2 separate regions of the Homo sapiens genome follow, and region 2 is linked to region 1. The links come from fine-mapping of genetic effects on gene expression. A gene starts in region 1. The other region holds a variant in brackets. All regions are shown on one strand. Distances are between the middles of the regions. Region 1 holds the start of KATNBL1 (katanin regulatory subunit B1 like 1). Region 2 has its middle 31 kb from the start of PGBD4.

The links. PIP is the estimated chance that this variant, and not a neighbour inherited with it, causes the effect. A credible set is the group of variants that fine-mapping cannot tell apart.
Region 2: its variant is the best candidate, but not a certain one, in a credible set for the expression of KATNBL1 in skeletal muscle (GTEx, PIP 0.76).

What each region holds. Positions count from the first base shown.
Region 1 is chr15:34,207,436-34,211,835 of GRCh38, reverse strand. It overlaps KATNBL1 (katanin regulatory subunit B1 like 1), which reads left to right and starts at 1,740. Exons shown (of 10, transcript NM_024713.3): 1 at 1,740-1,885. RefSeq lists a silencer at 1,796-2,195.
Region 2 is chr15:34,130,824-34,135,223 of GRCh38, reverse strand. No RefSeq gene overlaps it. Among named protein-coding and RNA genes, the nearest start is that of PGBD4, 31 kb to the right of the region's middle. The variant A/G (reference allele first, on the strand shown) is at 2,094.

The sequences.
Region 1 (4,400 bases):
GAAGAAATGACTTGAGAGAAAGTGACTTCACCCATGTGTGTTGAATTTTTATTTTCTTTAAAACAACACATCTACTTAGTGGAAGTCATATTCAGGAAATATTCTTTATTGTACATACATGGAACCTAGGGCTCCAGCTTCCTTTACTCACCTAGCTGGACTCTCTCAACAGTACCACCTGTTAACAGATGTGGCCCCACACATAGGCATGTATGTGCCTTGCTTATGCTTGGTACAATCGAGAAGCTCTCAAAGGTGTTGCTTATGCCAAATATCCTAAAACTATTTTCCCACTGCCCTAAGGTCTTGCCTCAATTTTCAACATGACTTTTTTTTTTTTTTTGATTAAGTAAGGACTCTGTTACTAGGGAGGAAAAATACATAAAGTTATAACAACCTGATGACATCTTAGTTCTGATCAGTTTATCTGACAGGCCTCCCATTGCTCGGAACTCCCACGGCATTTAGGAGATACCTTTTATCACTGCAGTGTATTGGAATGATCTCTTTTCCTGTTTTTCAAGCCACTGAGAGCTGCTTCAGGCGATTTCCAGCACCAGGCACAATTTGCCTGGCACATGGCGGGCCTTCAAAAAGATTGTTAAACCAAACTTAAGCAGCCTGCTCCCTAGGCAAGCCTTGAGTTCCGAAATGAGTGCCTGAAAAAGCAAGCCAAGGGATGTAGTCTTGTGGTGAGGAAGTATTTCCACCAAAGGCACTGCTTGGTTGGTTTCTGCAAGGGGCGAGAGAACCACCATAGACAAACTTGCTCCTGTCACAGCTTGGCTAACCTTGACCGGTGGCTTATCTATGAAGGTGAGCAGCCTGGTTCTAATGAAGAGAACTGCCCTCAGTAATTAAAAGTTCATCATCTACAGACCCAACCCTAACCTCATAATCTAATTTAGTGTTCCCCATCCCAACAAGACCGAACCAGCTTCCTGAGGACAGGTTCTGCATCATGTACATTTCTTGTGTTCTTAAGAGTCTAGCACAAAGTTTGGCACATAATAGGAACTAAAAAAATGATGACTAACAAACACGAAGGGCTTACCATATGCCGGGCACTCCTCTAAGCATTTTATATGTATTAATTCATTTAATCCTCACAACACTAAGAGACAGATACTATTGTTATTGTCCCCATTTTACAGAAGGGGAAAGCAAAGCACCTAGGAGTTTATGTGACTTGCTCAAGGTCACATAGTTCCACAATCCATGCTTTTAGAAACTATGCCTTAGAGCGTTTATTAGTATCATTTTTATTTTTATAGAGACGGGGGCGGAGGTGGGGGGTGGGGGGTAGTTGTCCCCATGTCGTCCAGGCTGGTCTTGAATTCCTGGGCTTAGGTGAACCTCCTGCCTCGGCCTCCCAAAGTGCTGGGATTACAGGTGTGAGCCACTGTGCCCAGACTCTTAGTGTATTTAAATAGGTGTGAATGAATAAATCTCTCCCGGAACCATAACTTTATAGGAAATTGTTTGCACCTCCTGGTACACCACTAAGGCACGGTCTCCCACACTAGGTTGTTCCTAGCGCACGGTCGGTCATTCGTTGACCTTTACCCACCCTCAGTTCCTATCGCAGTATCACTTCTCGCGCCATAGCAAGGCTACCGTGCGAAGCTCTAGCCACCAGGGGGCACTGTGGCCACAGGTCCTTTTCCCCTCCGGCCCTTAGCGACCCCCAGAGGGGCGGAGCCAACGTTGGGCGGAGCCCGCGAGCCGCCCACAGCGCCAGCTATCCCGGCGGGCCGCGCGCGCGGCCGCGTTTGAATGGCCCTGAGTGGGACTCGGCCCAGAAGCCGAGGGACTCTCTAGGCTGCCGGGCGCTGGTCGTCAGCGCCGAGGCTGGGCTGAGGCGCCGCGGTACCATGAGGCGCCGGTAAGTGACTGCCGAGCCGGTGCGAGCCCCGCGCCCGCAGCTGCCCTGCCCTGGCAGGGCTACTCCAGCCGGGCTTGGCCGCGCCCTGGGCCCACCTGCAGGCCCCGCGGCGGCCTCGGCTCGGCCGGGCTCGCGGCAGCGCTGCCGGGTCCCGGGGCGGGGCGGCAAGGCCGGGGCGGAGCCCCTCTGCCGGTCCCTGCGGGGAGAGTCGGGCAGCGGGCGCTGGGGGGCTCCAGGGGACTGGGCCGGGAGAGGCGTGGACCGAACCTGTTGTCACTTATTTATCTTCGGGTGGAGTCGACAGCTGCACCTGGGGAAGGGGAAGGACAGAACGAGTGTGGGGCGAGCATTTTTGAGGACAGGTTTTCCGCAGAGCGCCTAGGCCCGGCCCAGGCATTTCCTTATTTTCCGACGGGTCCTCGGATTCCTGACGGATGAGCTTTTGTTTCGCAGGACAAAAACTTGACATAACTGCATAAGAATTGTCGATTGCAACTTTAAAAACCTTACTGTATTTTCTGAAAAGTTGTTCTGTAAAGTATCTAGGCTTTTACTACGCTCTTATATTGCTTAAATATGGAGATAACAAAGAGTTGGTTTGTTTTCTTGTGGCTTATAAAGTTCCTTGAAAACAGAGATACCTATGTCAGTTTCTTTGCTGATTTAAAAAAAATTGTAAGAGAAATTAGGTGTGTAATAATCATCAGTTCAGCACTTGCGAGAATTATGAGAAACTAGTCCACCTAATAGCTTAAATCTGCTGGGTTTTTTGGAGTTTCTTTGGATAGCCAGCTTCAGACTTGAATTGAAACGTCATCCATTGAGGCTTTTACTTGGCTAATAACTAATATTAGCCAATAATAATATTAGCCAGTGTGATCATAATGATGGGCAATATTTATTTTGTGCTTTCTATGCGCTGGGCGTATTAAGAGCTTTACTTTGGGATATATACTGTTGTCCCCATTTTGACAGTGAAGAAACTAAGGCACAGGAAATTTTAGTATTGTAACTTTTGTACCGTACAGGGTTACACAGCTAATATAATTAACACCCGAGCAGGCTGGCTCCACGCTTTTAACTCTGTTGCTCTACTACCTCCTTTATCTGTGGCTCTTTTTAGTTTACAAAGCCCTTTCATTTCATTTACTTAAACTTCGGAGACCTGAGTGTGCTTTTGTGTACACATACATTCATTCACACACCATTCATTCAAGTTTTCTGCTCTTGATGATTATACTTAAGGTTTGTGCCTGAGCAAAAAATCCATTGACTATTTTAAGATAAATGGAGTTCATAAGCTTTATGTGTGTTATAATTTATGTTTTCAATTCCTTTATATCCTTTCCTGAAAGTTTTGAAAGTGTTAGTCTTAGCAACTTATGTATTACTTTAAAATAAAAAATTACATGTTAAATGTTTTCATCCCTAAAACTTATTGAGTGGTTATTCTGTACTTGAAATGGTTATACTTAAACTAATACCTCCTTGACAAGGAATAAATTTCAAAAGCAAAATCACTTAGTAAGAAATCAGCAGTTTATACTTATCTATAGCAGAGCTTTTAAATGTCATTCATCAGTTACAAAGCTTTCGATTGCCTGTATGCCCAACAGGGTGGTAGACCCAATTGGCTATACAAAAGAAATGTGCCGCAAGAATGACACTATGGACTTTGGGGACTTGGTAGAAAGAGAGTGGGAGGGGGATGAAGGATAGAAGACTACACATTGGATACAGTGTTCACTGCTCAGGTAATGGGTGCACCAGAATCTCGGAAATCACCCCTGAAGAACTGATTCATGTAACCAAACACCACTTGTTCCCCAAAAACCTATTGAAATAAAAAATAATAAAAATAAAATAAAAAATGTGCCAGGACAACCAACCTTAGGGAGATTAATCTAGTTTGGGTTATGAGATTAACAACAAAAAATATATATGACACTCTTCGTTAGTACAGTGGATGAATGCAGAACTGAACTGGGTAAAGCTTCTGCGAAAAACTAACAATTGCAGGATTTATGTAGGGCACTGAACAGAAGGGTGGATGGTGGGGCTAGGCAGGGTTGGTAATCCCAACACTTTGGGAGGCCAAGACAGGAGGATCTCTGGAAGCCAGGAGTTCGAGAGCAGCCTAGGCAACATAGCGAGACCATATCTCTACAAAAAATTTAAAATATTTTGCCAGGCATGGTGGCATGTGTCTGTAGTCCCAGCTACTTGGGAGGCTGGGGTGGGAAGATCGCTTAAGCCCAAGAGGTCAAGGCTACAGTGAGCCGAGATTGTGCCACTGCACTTCAGTGCAGCCACAGAACTGGTGTGGCTCACACCTGTAATCCCAGCACTTTGGGAGGCCAACGGTAGGAGGAAAGCTTGAGCCCAGAAGTTTGAGACCAGCCTGGGCAACATACCAAGACTCCATCTCTACAAAACATTTTAAAATTAGGGCCAGTGGGTCATGCCTGTAATCCTAGCACTTTGGGAGGCTGAGGCAGGTGGATCACAAGGTCAG
Region 2 (4,400 bases), 77 kb after region 1:
TATGTTTGTCTGTTAATTAGTCTTTTGTTTCATCTTTTAAGAAAAAAGCAACAGCTGACTATATAGTGGGAAAAGCTTCCTCCAGTACATTCCAGTAATGTTTATTAGCAGTTATCTGAGTAAGTTGTAACACAGCCATTATAAGCCAAGTGTTAAAGATACCAAAGAAACATATTTGGGTCAACATTCAACAAGTAGGTTGTAAGTAACAACTGCAACTTAATTGTATATTAAAGTTGTATATAAAGAACAGAGCCTCAGGGGGCATGGGAAAAAAAAAAAGAACCTCAAAATTAAAGTTCAATCTCTGGAATTTTTTTCTTCAAGGTTGACTAATATATATCTCTTTTCTTGTTAGTCATTCTGATTATACAGCTCTCTAAAGTCTTATTTCAGGTTTCCCAAAACTTTTATTGGAAAATTAATAGTTTTATGTCCCAACTAATGTTAATAGGTATGATTAAGAGTATGTCTAAATTTCTCTATTTATTGCATGTCCTTGTTTCTAGATGATAAACACAGGCATTGAGCTGCCAGGTACTTGGTGTGTAATAAAATGTCAACTGGTTGAGGTAGTGAGGCTCTCCATAATAAACAGATTACTTGCTATATGCTCGTTAATGTTAAGTGCAAAGGTAAGGTACAGTCCCTACCCTCAAAAAGTTGTTCCGAAATACTAAATGTATTGTGTTTCTAAAAGCATACTATTTTGGAAAAGACTTTGAAAGCTTTAGTTCTAACTTATACTTTTAGGAAGATCCAGATCTAAGCAATTTCAAACTCAAATGTAAAATATAGTATTGCGTTTTGTAAAACCCATTTTTTCTTTATATGTAGTATGTTACTTTTTTCTCCATGACTGGCTACAGAAGGAAGCTATTTGCACTGCTGTCAATAGGACCCTCAGAACTTTATCATCAAATCTCAAGTAATAATTAGGCTTAATAGAGAGTTTTGTATACCATGGCCATCCCTGTTTATTTCTCAGTTAGATATATGATATTCATACTTATATATTAGTTCATTATCCATACTGTGATGTCTTTTGAGGACGTAGCATCCAGTGGACTAAGGTACAACTTTCAAGGGCATTTTGTCTTAGGTTCTTTCTTCCTTCCCTACACATTTTGACTTGTAGAATGGGTAGCTGCTGGGAAGTTTTCCCTACAAGAACTTGACGTGGAAAAATTCTGATTACATCATTTCCAAATCATCCTTTTTCTTGGCTATAAATTTCAAAAATTGTTAAACATCTTAATGTTCTTTGACATCACACCATTATTATTTTCACTGAAATGATGACTATCTTGTTTAGCCATTAATACCTTTGAAGCCAGAGATGTCCCACTGGAGAAACTAATATAATTCAAATTTAAACATTTGCTAAAAAAAGAAAAAAAAGTATTTCTACTTCTTTTTGATAATTTGCTTTTTTTTTTCTTCTACATGCTGTGTACATCCTTGTTCCTATTTAATTTAGATTCTAAGTCCGCTAGACTATACACCCTTCAGTGCTTGTGTCCTGAGTCATACTGAGTAAATAGCTGCTTGGTAAATTCTAAGTATTGGTTTTTAATTTTTTTCTTCCTGAATTGTTGCAGCAACATTCTATCTAAATTACTACTTTTGGCTCTTCAGGAAAAAGTGACATTTTAATTATAAATGATATACAAAATCAAAACTATAGACAGAGCTCCTTTGGGCTTGTGAAGGCATCACCTTTTGTTTTGGGGGGTTTTGTGTTTGTTTTTTTTTTGTTTTGTTTTAATAAAGACAGGGTCTTCCTATATTTCCCAGGCTGGTCTTGAACTCTTGGCCTCAAGATACCCTCCCATGTCAGCCCACCAAAGTGTTGAGACTACAGACATGAGCCACTGCACCCAACCACCATTATCTTGTATAGAAAGAACTTTTTATGTAAATTATGTAAAATCATAGCCTTTAAATATACCCATTCCTCACCTCCACTTCTCTGTGTTATAAAATACTATTACCTGGTGAAATTGACATTGTACAGTGGTTATGCAGTGACTGGATTGTATTCCTAATGCACAAGATGAAACCATGTGTGAAAAGCACTCCCTTTTTTGTGG[A/G]TGTGTGGTTAGCCTAGAAGAAATACATTCCCTGAACTGTCTCCAGTGAAATTACTGAACTTTTAACTCCAAAGTTGCGTATGTCCTGGATATTTATTTGAGTTTTTCCTTTTAAGGAATCAGAAGGAAGCTGTTCCTTAGCACATGCAGAGTCATAAATACTGTAACACAGGGGAAAAGATACTGGTATAGGATTAGGGGACTCTGAGTTTCAAACACTTAACATTGAGGCTCAGATTATCAGGTGAAGTAGGTTTTATGTACTTGGATTATGAGAAATGAGTCTGACTTCAGCTCAACATCCCAAAATAATAATAGGCTCTGCTCCACGATAATAAAGTCCTCAATATACTGTACAACTTCTGCTTTGACACCACAGTGCAAAATTATCTTAAAACTATGCCAAATTGGGAGACATTTAGATTTTATGTCATCTGAAGCCTTTTTTATATTCCTGAAGGCTGGCCTAGAAGCCGAGCTAAATCCTTAATCCTTAACAAACTTAAGCTCCTTCACTATAGCCTGACCTGCCCCTTTTTGTATACTTCAGATATTAAAGATCTCAGTAAACGTACAACAGCTAGTTAATTGTAAGTTTTGAATTTCTGTATTTATAGAAACATTACAACACTTTATTTGGAACAGCATTCAATGAATGCATTGCCTTCTAAAGGGATTTGCTGAATCACTTGATCTAGTTTGTGATCCATTCAACACTTTCATAGAACTTAAACATTATGTGTGTGAAGCATCAGCACAGCTGTAATTGTGTCCCATAAGCACATTTTTTACTCCTACATTCAAATCTTGATTCCTACTCATGAGCTCTTTCAGCATTTTATACCTGTTTACTCAAAACAACTTGCCTAAGTCAGAGCTTTACAATAATCAGGTGATTTTTTTGTCCTCACCCTTTATTTTTCTCCCAAGAGTTAGTGTTTGATTGCAGCTTTACATCAATAAACATTTTAATGATTACTTGACTTCTTGATATTGTACCTATATGTGTTTTTTCTGCAATCAAAGATAATGCTAAAGAACACAAACATTTCACCCTTTCTAGAAAGAAGCCCTTGCTGTAATTGAGGAGAAAAAGTTTTTCTGGAGATTTATAATAATAGCTAACACTTAACGAATACTGCCAGGTAGTGATCTGAGCACTCGTATTCACTCCTTTTGTCCTCACAACAACCATATGGTAGGTATCATAGGTGTCCTTAAGAAATGAAAGTTCAGAGAATTTAACTGGTTTGCCCAAGTCTATACAGTTAATAACTGTTAAAGCAGACAGCCTAACTCCAGAGTTTATGCTCTTAACCATTCAGTTATGTTCTAGGAGAAAATAAAGAAGGGTGGAGGTGGAGCAGTCTTAGCAATATTTGTTTTTTGTTTGTTTGTTTGAGATGGAGTTTCACTCTTGTTGCCCAGGCTGGAGTGCAATGGCACGATCTTGGCTCACCGCAACCTCCGCCTCCGGGGTTCAAGCGTTACAGGCATTCGCCACCACGCCTGGCTAATTTTGTATTTTTAGTAGAGACGGGGTTTCTCCATGTTGGTCAGACTGGTCTTGAACTCCCAACGTCAGGTGATCCGCAATGCCTCAGCCTCCCAAAGTACTGGGATTATAGGCATGAGCCACCATGCCTGGCCACAATATTTGACCTTTGTTTTTTTGTTTGTTTTTGAAATGGAGTCTCACTCTGTCACCCAGGCTGGAGAGCAGTGGCACAATGTCGGCTTCTGGGTTCAAGCGATTCTCCTACCTCAGCCTCCCAAGTGGCGCCCGCCCCCATGCCCAGCTAATTTTTGTATTTTTAATAGAGACAGGGTTTCACCATGTTGGCCAGGCTGATCCCAAACTCCTGACCGCACGTGATCCACCCGCCTCGGCCTGCCCAAGTGCTGGGATACAGGTGTGAGCCATAGCTCCCGGCCAGTATTTGACCTTTGAATATGTCACTTCACTAAGTAGGCATTACTGTCACCCTTGACATATGTAAATTTTATATTTCTTCAAATAATGTTTTATTCTCTCAGGATATGTGTCTAATATTTGTTTCTTTTGTATGATATATGTTAAACCTTATATGAATGTTTTCATCTGTTTCTACCACATCTCAGATGTTCTTGATAGGAATAATTTCTCTATAGTATTTAAAATACATCTTAATGTGTTCATTCCTGTTTTATTAATACTTTTAACTGTGTATCTTGGCTACTAAAGCACCATACCAATTCATTCCTATGGTGTGCCTTTTGAACTGTAAGTGGAGCAGGAAAAAGTTTCATTTAAAATGTATTTTGCTA